Regions from separate parts of the Homo sapiens genome. Here region 2 is linked to region 1. Evidence: fine-mapped expression QTL. Tissue or cell type: thyroid. Region 1 holds a variant in brackets; the other region holds the start of a gene. All regions are shown on one strand. Distances are between the middles of the regions.

Region 1 (8,043 bases):
CTGGTCAGGAGAAATGGAATGAGGATTTAGAGTGATACCTCCCGTTTCTACTTCAGGCCCCTAGTGTGGCCAGGCTACGTCTGGGGCAGATTATCAAAGGAACTCGTGGAGAGGCACTTCGCAGCCACAGGATGAGACAAATCCCATGGCCTGAGTCTCCACCGCCAAGCCCATTCCTGGCCTCTACCCACTAGAACCAAGAGCCAGTAGCACCACCATCCCTAAGTTAGGACAACCAAAAATGTCTCTGGACATTATCCAATGTCCCCTGGGAGGGAAAATCACCCCCGTTGAGAACCACAACTCTACAGCATTATCCGTGAAGAGCATTTCCATCTCTGCAATGATGGGAACGGCCCTACCTGTGCCGTAGGGTGTGGCAGCACTGGCCACATGTGGCCACTGAGCATCTGAGGTGTGACTGCTGTGACTGAAGAACTGAATTTTTTATTAAATTCTAATTAATTTAAATTTAAATTTGAATGTGGCAAGCGGCTGCCACATTCAAATTTACATTTATCGGATAGCACAGCTCTGGAATATACAAGAAAATTTAAATATATCAGATAGCACAGCTCTGGCATATACAAGAAAAGGAGAAGAGCCCAACTGGAACTAGCAGCTGAGTGGCTGGAGAGCAGGCGTTTCTAGTAGGGCGTGATGATGCCTCCACTGGAGACCAAGGAGGATTCTAAAGAGGAAGTGGTAGCCCCGCACTTAATCTGTGACAAGACAAGGAACCCAGGGCTTTGGTGGCCCAGTCCTCTGGGCCAGGACGCACAGCAGAGGACTCTGACATTGGGTCTACCAGTGTTGACGATGGCATGCTCCAGATCTGTGCCCAGGTCCTAGCGGCCAGCTAAGAAGCTGACACTAACCTGAGCAGGGGAGTTGGTGGGTACATTCTAGGACAAAGGATTCTTGGGGCCCAGTGCGGTTGGCACATGAGGCGCGGGAGCTGTGAAGGAGGTGGCCTCCTTAACAAAACCCCCAAGGGAGTTCCGGTTGGCTCAGTGGGTTCCATGGCTCATGATGATGCCTCTACTCGGCAAACATTTACTAAGCCTCTTATATGGTGGGGGCAGGGCTGATAAGATCCAAGCTCTGGCCTCTCCTAGGGCTCAGTCTAACAGATAGGTGGGGTACAGGTAACCCCTAACTGCAAGGCAGACCAAGATAGGAATCCACAAATTCCACCATCCTCAAGCATTGGTGAGCTTGAGCAGAGAATGAGCTCCAGGTCTGAGCTCTTCAATTCACTCACTGATAGGACCCAGGAAACCTGGCCTCAAGCCCCCAGTTCTGCTAACTCACTCACTCCCTGGAAGGCCGTGGGCGAGACCCTCTTCCTCTGTGCCTGGTTTCCCCTTATGACCCATGCATGGGCCATTTAGACCACATGGTAGGGCTCCATCTAGCTCACCGTACCACCCCAGCCCTTCTGTGACCCTGACCTTTCCCACCTGGCTCTGCAGGAAACAGTCGTGCTCTCATCTGCCCCTGGGGGAGCTGGTGTTCTGGTTGTGTCAGCTCCTCATGCCAACCCTTCTGTGTGCTTCCCCAACTTCAGAAAATTCTCAAGAAGGAAACCAGGGAGGTGGTCTAGGGAGGCTCTGCACAGGAACGTTGTTCTGGGCAATCAGGGAAGGACCCTGGGGTGCGGGACCCTCTGCCCAGAGGCCGACAGAGCTCTGTCCCTAGAGGAGCAGGTGACAGGGCTGCAGGCCAGAGGAGGAAGGGGCCAGCCAAGCAGGCAGAGGCACAAATAAAGGTCTCAGAGTTTCCACATCAGGACACAGAGCGGGCAGGTGGCCCCCACCCAGAAAAAAAGAGAAATCCTCAAACCAGGCCTTATGTCTTCTGCTCTTTCCTCAGTGAGCACTTTAAAAAAAAAAAGCACAAACTTATCAAGAATGTTCCCCAATATTCCCACCAAAAGCCCCACTGACTTAAAACAAACAAACAAACAAAAAAACACACACACACAAATATACACATAGGTTACAAATTAAAACTGAACAGAATGATACAAAAATGAAAAATGCAAGTTTCCCTTCCTCCACTGGTCCCCCTTCACAAGGGTAACCACCTCCAGAGGAAAAAACTGTGTGCAGTAACTCAGTATAAGAACACACAGAAGGAATCAGGCTGCATACCAGGGGTCGGCAAACCTTCTCTATAAAGGGCCAGATGATATTTTAGGCTTTGTCGTAATGATTTAACTCTGTAGTAGCACGAATGCAGCCATAGGCAATACGTAAATGAATGGGTATGGCTGTGTTCCAATAAATTGTCTTGGACATGAAATCTGAATTTCATATCACTTTTTTTCCGAGTCATAAAATACTATTTTTCTTTTGACTTAATCATTTAAAAATGTAAAAATCAGGCCAGGCACAGTGGCACATGCTTGTAATCCCAGCACTTTGGGAGGTGGAGGCAGACAGATCACTTGAGCCCAGGAGTTTGAGACCAGCCTGGGCAACATAGCAAAATCCTGTATCTACAAAAAGAATGCAAAAAAATTAGCAGAGTGTGATGGCACGCCTGCAGTCCCAACTATTTGGGAGGCTGAGGTGGGAGGACTGCTTGAGCCTGGGAGGTCAAGGCTACAGTGAGCAGTGATCACACCACTGCACTCCAGCCTGAGCAACAGAACAAGACCCTGTCTCAAAAATAAATAATAAAAATTAAAATGTAAAAATCATTCTTAGCTGTAGGCTATACAAAAACAGGCAGAGCCGAATTTGGCCTTGGGGGGGGGGGTCCAGTTTGCTAGCTCCTACACCCTGCTTATTCCGCTTCCATCTTGATGATTGCTCCCTTCAGCACAGAGAGAGCCACCCCATTTTTCTGAATCATTGCCAAGTAATCCACTGAGAGATTGTCCCATAAATCATAAGGGCACCACAGCTCTCTACTGCTGGATATTTTGTTTGCTTCCAGTTTTGCTTTGAAATTATAAATAATGCTATAATGGACATCCTTTCACTTTGTAAATACACCCCACAGAGTTTAATCCTGTGGGTAAATCAAGGACTATGAAGATGTTTTAATTTCTCTCAATATTGTCAAGTGGTCCTCCAGAAAGTCAGAATTTACTCCACACTGCATATGAGCAGAGCCTTCTTTTCCTCACCCTCGACAGACCTGGATGTCCTGACAGACACCCTAGAAATGTATCCTTCTCTGAGCCCGAGGCCTGCTGACTCCTTGAGTTGGGGGTTTTCTCTATCTTTAGAAATCCCCTTTTGGCTCTGAATTCTGCTGACACCTGCCCTGGCAAAAGCTAGGGCGATGTCTGTCTTCTCCTCCCAAGTTTGAAGGGTGTGGATGAAGGAGTTCAGGAAATGCCACCCCATAATATGCGGCTTTGGTATGCTGATTATTTCAAACCTGAAGGCACTGGGGGAAAAACAAATGCAGGGAGGAACTTTCTCTGAACTTCTCTTATCTGCCTAAAGAGGGATTCCCCTTGTCCTGAGTCCCCCTCCCTGAGAAAGGAAGACTGACTTATTGACAATCTGCTGAGGCATCTTTTATTATCTGAGAGGTTTTTATCTGCCTAACAAGACCGTATAATTCCTCCCCTCACCCTCCCATAACTTGTGTCGCCACCACCCCCAGAAGCCCCAAGCCCCTATTTCCTTCTGTAGCTCAGGCTGCTATACAGGCTTCAGCCATCTCACCCTTCTGGGAATCTCATATTTTGTGGTACACCCATGTGCAGATATGTAACTAAATATGGTTTTCTCCTGTTGATCTTGTTTTTTGTTGTTATTGTTTTGAGATGGAGTCTTGCTCTGTTACCCAGACTGGAGTGCAGTGGCATGATCTCAGCTCACTGCAACCTCTGCCTTCTGGGTTCAAGCGATTCTCCTGCCTCCGCCTCCTGAGTAACTGGGATTATAGGCGCCCACCACAACCGGGTAATTTTTGTATTTTTAGTAGAGCTGGGGTTTTACCATGTTGGCTAGGGTGGTCTCGAACTGGCCTCAAGTGATCCGCCCGCCTCAGCCTCCCAAAGTGAGCCACCG[C/T]GCCCGGCCCTGTTAATTTTGTTTATAAGTCAGTTGAACTCATAGCCCAGCCAAGCAGCCTAGCAAGATGGAGGAAAGCCATTTTTGCTCCCCTGCATGGGCCAGGCTGCCAACCCCAGGGAAGAAACTGCCTGAGCTGACAACCCGGATTTTACTGCCACTCAATTACATGACAACTACGGAACTACAAAACCCCCGGCATCCTGAAGCTCCTGAGCCCCAGGACCTTCTCTCAGGCTGCCTTTGGGTCCTAGTCCTTTTTGCCCTCACATCTAGAATCTTCTAACACCAGTGCCAGAAGAGGCCCTGGAGATGGATCATTTGAGAACCTGCCCCTCCTTCACTGTGTGGATAAGAAAATTATGGCCAAAAAGAACGGACTTGCCCAGGGTCCCAGCGTCAGAAATGTGCTCAGCTGCCTCTCTTGTGACACGGTTGCCCACCTGCCCCAACATACTCAAGGTCATCTCTGCTAGTGACTACTCTCCCTGACTGCTGGTGTGTGTGGCTTGTGGCTAATCCATGTCTCTCCACCACCCCTCACAGTCTCCCTGATTTGGCTACCTTGACATTAGCGGCTTTCCCGGGATGTCTGGACATACTGGTCAATCAGGAACAGTGATGGGCCAGATCTGTAGAATCCCCCAGCTCCCTGCAGCCCACACCCCAGCTGTTCATGTGCTAGACAAAATCTGGATGTACCTAAGGAAGTTCCGGAAAGCCTTGAGCACCTGAACCCACGACTCAGCAGGTGAAGAGCTGAAAGTGACTGCTCCAAGGGACAATGATGCTCCTGCAGGAGATCCAGCAGGAGGCAATGTGGAGATCAGGGCCATCAGGGAGTGAAGGGGAGTGTGCAGGGATAGACGCCACCACTGGGGCCAACACAAGGCAATCCAGGGATTACCTTTGGATCCCAACACCTCACGAGGGCCCTAATAAGCAAGGCCAGGCTTGGAGAGCTGTCTCCCTGCAGATGAAAGGCATGGGCCCTCCACAAGAGCAGGTGAACTGTGGCTTCCATGGCTCTTCCCAGTGGGGTTGCCCCACACCATGTGGCTGGCCCAAAGGACATGAACAAGGGGAAAGGACAGGGTGATGGCCAGGAAACACACACAACCGAGTGCTTCAACATGCCAGGCTCTGTGCTGAGTCACTGGCACAGGACCATTTTCATCTGTGACCCCTCCCACCCCAGCCAACATCTCAGGGAGCCTGACAAGAGTCTGGGGGATGGGCAGCAGGAATCAGCCCTATTTTCAAATGGGAAAGGCAAGCTCCAAGAGGCTGAGTCGGGGAGCCCTCCCTCCCAGTTCAGTGCCCTCTGGCTGCCTCACTTTTGGCATCAACTCCAACCAGAGAGGGGAAGCCAAGTCCTGTTCCAGACATGGCCTGCCATCCCATGGGGCCCAGGCTAAAAGGCCCTGGGGTGGGCTGGAGCACCTCCCTGCTCCAGGCAACCCTTTCCTCACAACCCCCCTCCCACCAAACGCTGGCTGCGTGGGATGGGAGGAAGCGGTAGGGTTGCCATTTCCCTCCGCTCTGAGGCTGCCCATCTGTTTCCTGGGATAGGACTCCCCGCCCCTATCCACCCCTAGTCCGGAAACTCACTTGCCCTGGGGCTATGGGAAAAGGGAACTGCATGGCTCCCTCCCTCCCCAGGGGGTGGTGGCAGAGGCCTCCCACCCTCACGGCTCTAGCTGGGCAGCTCCTACCAATGCTTCTGGGTACACAGCGGGTGGCTGGGCCTAAGCAGCACTGCCCTAAAAGTGCAGCACCCAGTGTCAGAGTGCCACGAGACTCTCCTCCCTCCCCCACTCTGGCCTGGCTGTCATCCCTGGCTGGCAGCTTCATGGCTTATCCCAGCCCTGGGGGTGGGGTGATGGGGTGACTTTCTGGGTGGAAGTTGGTGGAAAGTAAAAAAGTGAAACACTTCCCAGCCCAGCCCCAGCTGATGTGACCACGTGGTCATCTGTGAGTAAGCACCGCCCCCTGCTGGACATGCCAGATACGGCCACTGCACCTTGGGTGCTCAGCTGATAACAAGAGGGAAAAGCCAGGCCTGGGGCCCAGCAACTTCACAAGACCCCACCAAAAACTAGGGGCCAGTAACACCAGCAGTGTCTAAGGCAACCTATAGTTCTATGTCAAATAAGTTTAAAAGAAGGGGCCAAAACCACAGGGGCTGGGCTGGGGCAGACAGGGAAGGCTTTGCACAGAATGTGAAAAGGCGAGAGAGGAGCAGAGAGGGCAGCCAGCCTAGCAGGGCCCAGCCACGCAAAGACCAAGGGGGATAAGACAGACCAACTAAGGGCCCTGGAGGTGGAACTAGGAAGTGGGGCCACTCCCTGTTAGATTTCACGCTGTTTAAAGCCTTGAACTTCTGCACCAGAACCCCAATATAGAAAATAGATCCAAGTTGAGGGTCTGGCCAAGGACGGGGGCTAGAGTCCCTCACCCCAGCACACAGTCGGGGGCCCCTGGGGCAGCTCTGAACACCTGAAGGAGCAAAGTTTGAACCTAGAGCTTCAGACAATGGGGTTTCAGAGCATTTGACTGACAAGACAACCATGAGGTCTCACGAGGAGGGAGAACACAGCCGCAGTGTTCAAGGCGGAATGAAAGCAGGGATGGGGAAGCCCAAGGCAGGAGGGGATACTGAGAACTTGCTGCACTTCTCCAGCCAGCCCTCCTCCCACACAGGACTTCACGGATTCTCAGGGTTAATGTATGGGAGCCCAAACCCTCCGTTCACTGGGTCCTTTCCCAGTCTCCCCTCATGCCCTGTCTGTACTATCTAATCTAGCCCCTGGTTACACTGGGCACTGGTCTCTGTCTCCTGAATCCTCCACAGAGCACCACACACACAGGACCTCCACAAGCATGATTAACATGATAAAGAAAAAGAAAATTGCATGTACTGCAGAGCAATGGGCCATCCCCGGGAGCACCGGCCTCCCATGCCGGAGGCTGCCATGCTTATCTGGTGAGGATACTCACCCCAGGAATGTCCAAAAGCTTTGACACCAGAAGAGGCAACTTCAGGGCTGCGACACTCCCCGTGACACCCACAAGAACATGGAATTTTCTCTCCATCAAGGGTGCAGCAGCTGGACAGGAGGCCTTTGGTTCCATGTGGGGTCTGGTGGCTTCAAGTTCTGGGAGCCTGCCAGGCCTGGGCTCTATAAAGCTGTCGGGATTTAGGATCTAAAAGGAGAACAAGGGCCACCCCCTTCATTCATACAGTCGACCAGAATGTATGGAGCACCACGTATTAGGCCCCAGGCCAGAGGCTGAGGCAGCGGAAGGGATCAGCAGTCCTGGCTTCAGGGAGCACACAGTTTGATAAGAAAGTGAGACACCTTCCCCACACATGGGCCAGTCACAAGGGAATGATGCAGTGCTGTGGGGAAGGGCTGTACCAGGTGCGTGGCTGCTCAGGGTGACCATCTCTAGAAGTCAGAGATTGCATCCCAGAAAAAATGACATTGGGGTTGAGTCCTGAAGGATGAGTTAGTTTTTCAGAGACAGGAAGAAATCACTTCAAAGGAAGGAACAATCTTGCCAAGGTGAAGGTCCTGAGGAGGGTGGCAGGTTGGGGAACAGGGAGTGGCTTACTAGTGAGGCCGGACTGTGATGGGGGGTGGTAGAGGGGCAGAAAGTGAGACTGAAAGTCAGGGTGAGGCCAGAATGCCGTGGGCAGCGAGGGCCAGGGTGAGGAGTTTTGGTTTTAGAAAGACGGTGCTGGCACCTGGTGACAGTGTCAAAGGGACCCTGTTAGTGGAGAGACTGGAGGGCGAGAGGAGCTGCTGCGGTGGACTGGGCTGACTGGTGAAAGGAAGCGGCAGGAAGGGATGGGTTCCAAAGATGCTCATGAGGTGGAACCCTGGGCAACAGGGAGGTTTGGGTGCTCCAGGGAGCCAAGAGATTTGCCTCTCTGTCCCTGTCCCTGTTAATCAAGATGGGCACCACCGTACAAATCAAAGCCCAGGAAGAAACCAGCATA
Region 2 (8,043 bases), 36 kb after region 1:
CCTGGGGAGAGTAGTCCAGTTTGGAATACTCCTCCCATGGAATAGAAAGGGGAACTGATGGGAATGAGGAGAGGGGTTTCTATAAGTGATGAAGGGATGGCTGAGACTGGAGACCCTTCCTGGCAGCTCGGGTGACACACAGGCAAAGTGGCAAAGTGGTTGAGGGCATGGAGTTCAGAAAGAACACGGAAGAGGCAATTCATGAGATGGAGAAAATGGAGGTGTCTGAGAACTAGAGGTCTCCTTGAGGTCAGAGCACATAAAGCATTAGTTAGACTGTGGTCAGAGAGAAATACTAGAGTTTAAGATTTCAGAGGTGGCCACATGCCAATGAGGACCACATTCAGATGTAGTTGGTTAAAATGGTGACTGAAAGAGGCACTACCTCCCCTGAGACAATGGGACATGGAGTGGGAGACTGTGGTCCAGCACTAAAGACCTCCAGGAAAACAAGGAAGCAGAGGGAGAGGAGAAAACAACTAGAACATAGGGGCCTCAAAGGAGGAGTCTTCTCCCTAACCGGGCTCCAGCCTAACCCCTGTCCCTGGTCCCAGACAATCTCCCAAAAGTCTGCTTACAGTTCCAGAGAAGTCAGTGCAGCAAAGTATGAATAATTCAGAGCAGAAACCAGAGCAGAGGGCAAAGCTGCCTTGTTTGTATATAAAGGTTAGGGCAGAGAGAATCTGGGGCTTGAGAGGGTGGTAAAAGACTAGGGTCACAGAAATGGAAGGCTCCAGGCTTCTCTGCCCTTGTTTCTGGGAAGCCTTTGAAATGGGGGGTGGGGGGTTGGAGGGGAAGACAGCAATCACTGGCCTCTGCAAACCAAAGTTCTTTTTTTTTTTTTTTTTGAGATGGAGTTTCACTCTGTTGCCCAGGCTGGAGTGCAGTGGCACGATCTCAGCTAACTACAACCTCCTCCACCCAAGTTCGAACTATTCTCCTGCCTCAGCTTCCCTAGTAACTGGGATTACAGGCGTGCACCACCATGCCTGGCTAATTTTTGTATTTTTACTAGAGACACGGTTTCACCATGTTGGCCAGGCTGGTCTCGAACTCCTGACCTCAGGTGATCCACCCGCCTCGGCCTCCCCAAGTGCTGGGATTACAGGCATGAGCCACCGCGCCGGCCAAACCAAAGTTCTTAGACTACAAAACAGAAGAATTAGCAATCTGCTCAACTGATAATCTTTTATAATGGGGATAAGGGCTACATATCCCTCCAAAGATGTAGGCCTAGGGAAACACCTTAATTATCAATAAGATAGCAGTTACTACCTGAATTTTGTTCATGAAACCCTAACTATAATGTATTCCATTCCTTATTGTGAAGCTAGGACAGAAGCCCCCACAGTGGGGAGACTGAGGCCTCTGGCAGCAGACGAGGGTCAAGCCTGGCTTCAGATCAGGCCAGAGTCCTGGGGCTAACTCCAGGGCTCCCTGCTCACCAGTATGGGCCCCTCATCCCTGGCACAGAAATGGTGATTCCTTTTTGCTGCCCAGAGCCAACCTGCTAAGATGGAAGTTTCCCCCTCCTGCTCTACCTCCAATCCCCTCATCCCACTCCTAGCCCCATCTTCTGCCCTGAAATCCCAGAACTATGAATAATCCTCAGAAAACAGCAGTCTCCTGGCCATGCTGTCCCTGTCCTACTGATGACTATTCAGTAGCCTCCTACAGATCTTTGCCTGGCATTCAAGGCTTTGTGCCAGTCAGCTACAAACCTCCCTCCCACCACCTTTGGCTGCTCACAGGTTGACCTGCCTCCTACACTCCCAGCCTCATGCAGGAGATCATCTCTAGCCGCCCCCTCTGCTTCCAGTGCCCCTAAATTGGCAGCACTATCAGCTCCTCTAAGTCCTGCTACCTTCTCACATCCCACCCCTTCTGGGAAGCCTTTCCAAAAATCGCTGCTCTGCATCCCGCTGCATACATTTTGAGTCAGTCATTGGGCACTAAGTGTTCACGTCTTCTCCCATAATCTCCTCACTCCCTCCTGGATGGAGTTTCCAGGAGGGACCCAGCACAGAGCACAGTCAATCCATATACTTGCTTAAGACTTGGACACTTTCCCAATGGGTGGGAGGGAGGCAATTAACGCCCTCCCCCAATCAGATTAAGCCCAAAGCTGCTGTCAAACCTGCTGTATCACACTTCCTCCAGGAAACCTTCCGAAACTCCTGGCTGGCAGCAGGGAAGGAAGTGCAGCCTGTAAAGGAAATGCTGTGGGGGGCAAGGGGTGGGGATAGGGACAGGGAGGCAGAGGGATAGGGGAGGAAAGGAAAAGGAAGAGGGAGAAGAAAGGGGGGATGCTCTAAACTAGAACAAGGAGCATCCTCAAGGGAGGTCACTACTTAGTCCTATTATTTCATCTCTAGAGAAAGGTGCTAGAAAGAGATGCCCAGAGAGGGGAGGTGACTTGGGGAACTTGCTTGGAGGTGGCCACTCAGGAAACGGTTAAAGAAACAGCCACAGAGCCCAAGGTCTCTCTCTAGAACTCCCCTCCTGGGACCCCACTAACTCTCCAAGGGGTTTGCTAAACCTAAGACCCTCTTTCAGGGGCCCATTCACCAGAGACAGCCCCCTCTCAGCTCTAGAGACTTTGCCCTAAGGCTCACCAAGCCCAGAACAAACCTAAGTTAGCAAGACCTGTGTAGCCCCAAACAAAATCTCTCTGCCAATCATGCCCCTGCAAGAACCATCTCCCTCTTTCAGAGCCCTGCTCCGTGAGGCAGAACATGTAGGGGACAGGTTGCAAATTTCTCCAGACTCCACCACCCCATGGGCAGTCACATGGCTGAGCTCCCAGGCTCAGCCCCCAACAGCTGTGCTCGTTTTCATCCCTGTGCCTTTGCCCATACATTCTCCTGGAATGCCCTCTCTTGCCTCTCCTCCCACCCAAATCCCATCACCTCTGGAAGTCTCCTATTCGCTAGCTGTCGCCTCCCTTTCTCTCTGTGTCCCTGGGAAAGTCTGCCAGGCCCTCACTGATCTCCCCATCGGGAAGCTGGGACATTACTTGTTTAAGCCGCCTGTGACAGTGAATGCTCAGTCCGAGTCTCTACTTGGTTCCCCCAACCCACAGACCAGGAGCTCCCCGAGGCGGAGGACAAGGATCGGTTCACAAACACCTCACCTCCATCCTCGTGACCTCCGGCCAGCGTTGAAATGAGCCAAATCCGGCGCCCCCAACTCACCACCCAAAGCCCTGATGGAGCCCGCCTGGTGGCCTGGGCCAGCGCGCCCGTCGCCTCGCAACCCTGGGGCGGCTGAGGTCCGCCATCCAAAGGTCGGCCGCCCGAGGGAGGTGAGGGAAGTCAACCCGGGTCCACCTGCAGGCGCTAGTTGGAAGGAAAGGCCCAAAGGAAGCCACGGGCACCCCCTTCCAGTCGCCCCCATCCCCGGCTGCGCACGCCATCTCCAGAAGGCCGGTTTCCAGGGAACGCCAGGTGGGGCTGGCGGGGGGGATGGAGGGCCCAAAGCTCAGGCTCCAGATCCAGGGTCTGACGTCACCCAAAGGCCCAGTTCCCTCTGCGGGAGCCACAGATGGGAATGGGGGGGCTTGGGGGGCTCGGGGGGCCTGGGTGCGCCCTGAGCGCTCTCCCCCAGCCCCAAACAGTAAAGGTCACCTCCACTCCCACCTCTCCAGCAGTTCGGCCTTCTTCCTGCATCCAAAGGTGAAGTGTAGGAGGAACAAAGCTGCAGCCAGCGACCCCCACACCTCTCGCCCCGCGCCCAGCTTCCCTTCAAAGCTCTCCTCCCAGCCTTCATGCCCAGACTCACCTGCCGCGGCCGTTCGGCTGCCGAAAGGCCGCAGCGCTGCGCTGAGCTGCGCTGCACCCGAGCGATGCGGCGCGGAGCCGGCCGCGAGCCGCTCCGGGGCTGGGGGCGGGGAGCGCGCGCGCGCGCGCGCGCGCCCGAGGCCGTCTCTGCGCGCGCCCGCGCCGCCACTGCCTGCAGCAGTCACTCTCGCGAGACTTCCGCTCTGCTCCTAAGGCTGCTCCTCCTGAGCTCGCGAGAAGGACGACCCGGCCGCCCCGGCATCTTCCAGGAGCTGTCCGAGGTGCTAGTTCCCGGGCCCCGGCCGGATCAGGTGGTTGACGGGCACCTCAGGGACAAGAGCCTGGCGTGTAGGTGGAAGGAAGAGACCCAGAGATGGGAGCCTGGCACCAGCAGCCAGAGCCTCAGCTTCCATATCTGTAAACTGGGGAGAATAACCTCCTATACCTATGCCAGGAGCCTCTGGGACGTGCCAGAAAGGAGTGAGAAAGAGCTGAAAGCAGGAGAGTGTGGTGACTGCGGAAGGTCCTTCAGATCTGCAGGCGCAGGGGGAAAGAGAGAACAGAGGACGGAAGATCGGAGATGATATTCAGAGAGGCAAGGACACAGATCCACGGAAAGACGACATAGGAGGACGAGAAAGAAGAGCTGCAAACAGAGACAGAGACACACGGAGAGAGAGACTGAGATGAGAGCTCAAGGCCTGGAGAGAAAAAAGACATGGAAAGATAAGATAGGTAAGGGAGCATAATGAAGCAAGAAAGAGGCAAGAAATAGAGACAAATTACGCAAAGGAGCAGAGAGAGAGAGAGAGAGAGAGGAGAGGCTTAGAAAAAGAAAGAGACTCAGAAAAAGGAATGAAAGAGACAGTGATATGCAGAGATGAATACCAAGAGAGAGTAGAGGCAAGGGTAAATGTTTAAAAACCCAGAGCTTTGGAGGGTTGAGAGAGACCCACTTGGAGAGATGGGCTGGGAGTGAAGACAGGATTTTATTGTGATTGGTGTTTACATAGTAAACCTCCGTGGGATCTCTACAGGCAGGGCCAGGGCCACTGTCTGTCCTGCCAGCCAATTGCTCCTTCCCCTACACCATACACCCACCCTCCACCCCCCACCCACACCATCCTAGGCCTGGAAGGGGGCCTCAGTGGGTGGGAGACACTGCAGGGATTCTTTGCCTAGAATAAGGGCCCATTGTCTGGCTCCATCCTGCCAGGAGTGGGGCCTCACTCCCACAGCTGGCATGAAAAGGGGGTGGCAGTGAAAAAAGGCAGACAAGAACTAGTGTGGCAGAGGGGAAAAGGAGGGAGAGAGCCTCGGTGCCTGGGAAGGGCTGAGCAGGAAGCATCATCCTGCCACCAGGCCAACCAGGAAGGAAGGGTCCTGGGCTTCGGGGCAGGACAACTGGGTTCTGTGTCAGTCCTGTCCCTGGTTGACCCACATGCTGTCTCTCCCTGCTATAATGCAAGCCAAGGCTGATTTACAGAGCTGTGGAGAGCAGCCAATGAGATGACAACTGGGAACCTGTCGAAGTTATCAAGTGTGGCTGCTACAGGGAAAATGTTGGGAGTCCATGTGGGCCTCAGGAAAGATATAGGGGTTCACATAGGCCTTTAGGAGAGAGATCTGAGGTCCACACTGGGATCCACAAGGAAGATGTCTGGAAACCACATGGAATTTATAGGAGATATCTTGTGGTTCATGTAGGTCCTACAAGGGAAATATTGGGGTTCCCGTCTGATGACCACGGACAATTTTTCTCCACTCAGAAGAATCAGAAGGGTCTCCTATTTGATAAACAACTAACGTAGGAAGAGTGAGCAGGTCCAAAGTCAGAAGCCCACCTTTGTCCCAGTAGATTGTACCTTTCCTATTCAGGTAAATGGAAGGGAACAATGATCACTTAAACAAACGTTTACTTAATAGGCATTTGCTGGTTACCTACCATGAGAAGAAGCATACAGCAGTGGTTAAGAATATCAACCTAGAAGGCAGACCTTGCCCCTTCCCTGCAGTGTGAATTTGAGAAGGTACTAATCCTCACTGAACCTTAGTTTTCCACATATGTAAAATAAGGATGGTGATAATGGGACCCGTGTCTTAGGGTTCCTGCAAGGATGAAATGAATTAATACATGCAGACACATGTAACATATGGGACTGCCTGGTACACAGTAAGTATTTAATGATCTGTAAATAGATGGATAAAACAATTTTTAAAAATTAAAAATAAAGTATTTAAGCCAGGCACGGTGGGTCACGCCTATAATCCCAGCACTTTGGGAGGCCAAGGCAGGCGAATCACTTGAGGTCAGGAGTTCGAGACCAGCCTGGCCAACATGGTGAAACTTCATCTCTGCTAAAAATACAGAAATAGCCAGCCATGGTGGTGTGCACCTGTAATCCCAGCTACTCAGGAGGCTGAGGCACAAGAATCCCTTGAACCCAGGAGGTGGAGGTTGCAGTGAGCCTAGATGACGCCACTGCACTCCAGCCTAGGCGACAGACCAAGACTTCCTCTCAAAAAAATAAATAAATAAAGTATTTAAAGGTGCTAGCTCAAACTGCGTGGCAGGCACTGGAGACATGTCTTTGTTGTAGTGGAGGGCAGGGGTGAGAGAGCCTGTGCCAAACCATGCAGTAACACATTTCAAGCTTCTTTGCAGATGTGGAGAATGTCACATCTGCTCATATGCCATTACTCAAAGCAAGTCACATGGGTAAGCCCAAAATTAATTCATGGGGGTCAGGGAGGTATGCTACCCATACAGGATGCCAGATAAGTCACATGACAAATGGTGGGGACATTTAATCCCATTGCAGAGGGAGCAAGTAACTGGGAACAGGAACCCAATCAATCAATGTCCCACAGGGCCAGCTCCAGGCTGCTTATCTTTCCCTGCCTAGCTATGCCTGAATGAGGCATGTCCATCCAAGAGTCTCTGGGAGAATATTTATGTTACAGGCCAGTAAACGAATAAAAATAGAAGTATTTACTGAACTTTTAATGTCTGAGTGAAATGCTAAACTGCATGACCATCCTAAGAAATAAGTGCTATTGGGCCGGGCGCAGTGGCTCACACCTCTAATCCCAGCACTTTGGGAGGCCAAGGCGGGTGAATCACAAGGTCAAGAGATCGAGACCATCCTGGCTAATACGGTGAAACCCGGTCTCTACTGAAAATACAAAAAATTAGCCGAGCATGAGAGCGTGTGCCTGTAGTCCCAGCTGCTGGGAGGCTGAGGCAGGAGAATGGCATGAACCCAGGAGGCGGAGCTTGCAGTGAGCCGAGATCCCGCCACTGCACTCCAGCCTGGGCGACAGAGCGAGACTCGGTCTCAAAAAAAAAAAAAAAGAAAGAAAGAAAGAAGTGATACTATCCATATTCTATAGATGAGCCAAGTGAAATTCAGAGAGGTAAAGTGATCTGCCCAAGGAAATTGGATGGATAGATCTAAGAAATAAAAGAACCACTATCTTTAGGCTGGGTATCCCCAGAGGCAGACACTGAGATAAGGATGTTCATATAAATGGTCCATTTGAGAGATGATTCCGTGGAGCACTAGTAGGAGAGAGGGGGAGTGAAACAAACAAATGAAGAAAAGCAATATAGGGTGCAATAATCAGCAGATTACCACTGTGGACAAATGGGGCTTGACTGTATTGGGCATCTCTGGGAGAGTGAAGAAGACAAGGTACTCATCCCACTGAAGGAGTGATGACACTGATGATTTCTTCATTAGTTGAGAGCTGTTCCTGGCACCTCCAGCCTGCCGGAGTGCCTTCTGAGCAGAGAGCACCCTCAGGCAGAAAATCCCAGGGGCTTATAGTAAAAAAACATCAGGAGTGGCTAAAGGGGTATGGGAAGGGCACTGTGTTGTGACATCTACCACAGCCAGGACCTAAACCCATCAGCCTGGCTCCTGAGCCATCTTATGTCACCTCCATGATAATCCTGTTAATCACGTTATCATCCATGCTGTTAGTCCTGTGGAAGTTTACAATATGGAGTCTTCTTTCTTAACAAAGAGCCTCCCCTGACTGGCGCGGTGGCTCATGCCTGTAATCCCAACACTTTGGGAAGCCAAGGTGGGTGGATCACCTGAGGTCAGGAGTTCGAGACTAGCCTGGCCAACATGGTAAAACCCCGTCTCTACTAAAGATACAAAAATTAGCCGGGTGTGGTGGCGGGCGCCTGTAATCCCAGCTACTTGGGAGGCTGAAGCAGGGAAATCGCTTGAACCCGGAAAGCAGAGGTTGCAGT

Evidence for each region. PIP is the estimated chance that this variant, and not a neighbour inherited with it, causes the effect.
Region 2: it holds the start of SCAMP5, and the variant in region 1 is fine-mapped to the expression of SCAMP5 in thyroid (GTEx, PIP above 0.99).

The regions. Positions count from the first base shown.
Region 1 is chr15:75,027,448-75,035,490 of GRCh38, reverse strand. PPCDC (phosphopantothenoylcysteine decarboxylase) reads right to left here. Exons shown (of 6, transcript NM_021823.5): 2 at 7,038-7,244. The coding sequence starts at 7,172. Among named protein-coding and RNA genes, the nearest start is that of PPCDC, 7.9 kb to the right of the region's middle. RefSeq lists a silencer at 1,419-1,612 and enhancers at 3,567-4,067, 6,124-6,313. The variant C/T (reference allele first, on the strand shown) is at 4,038.
Region 2 is chr15:74,991,411-74,999,453 of GRCh38, reverse strand. It overlaps SCAMP5 (secretory carrier membrane protein 5), which reads right to left and starts at 3,891. Exons shown (of 7, transcript NM_138967.4): 1 at 3,781-3,891.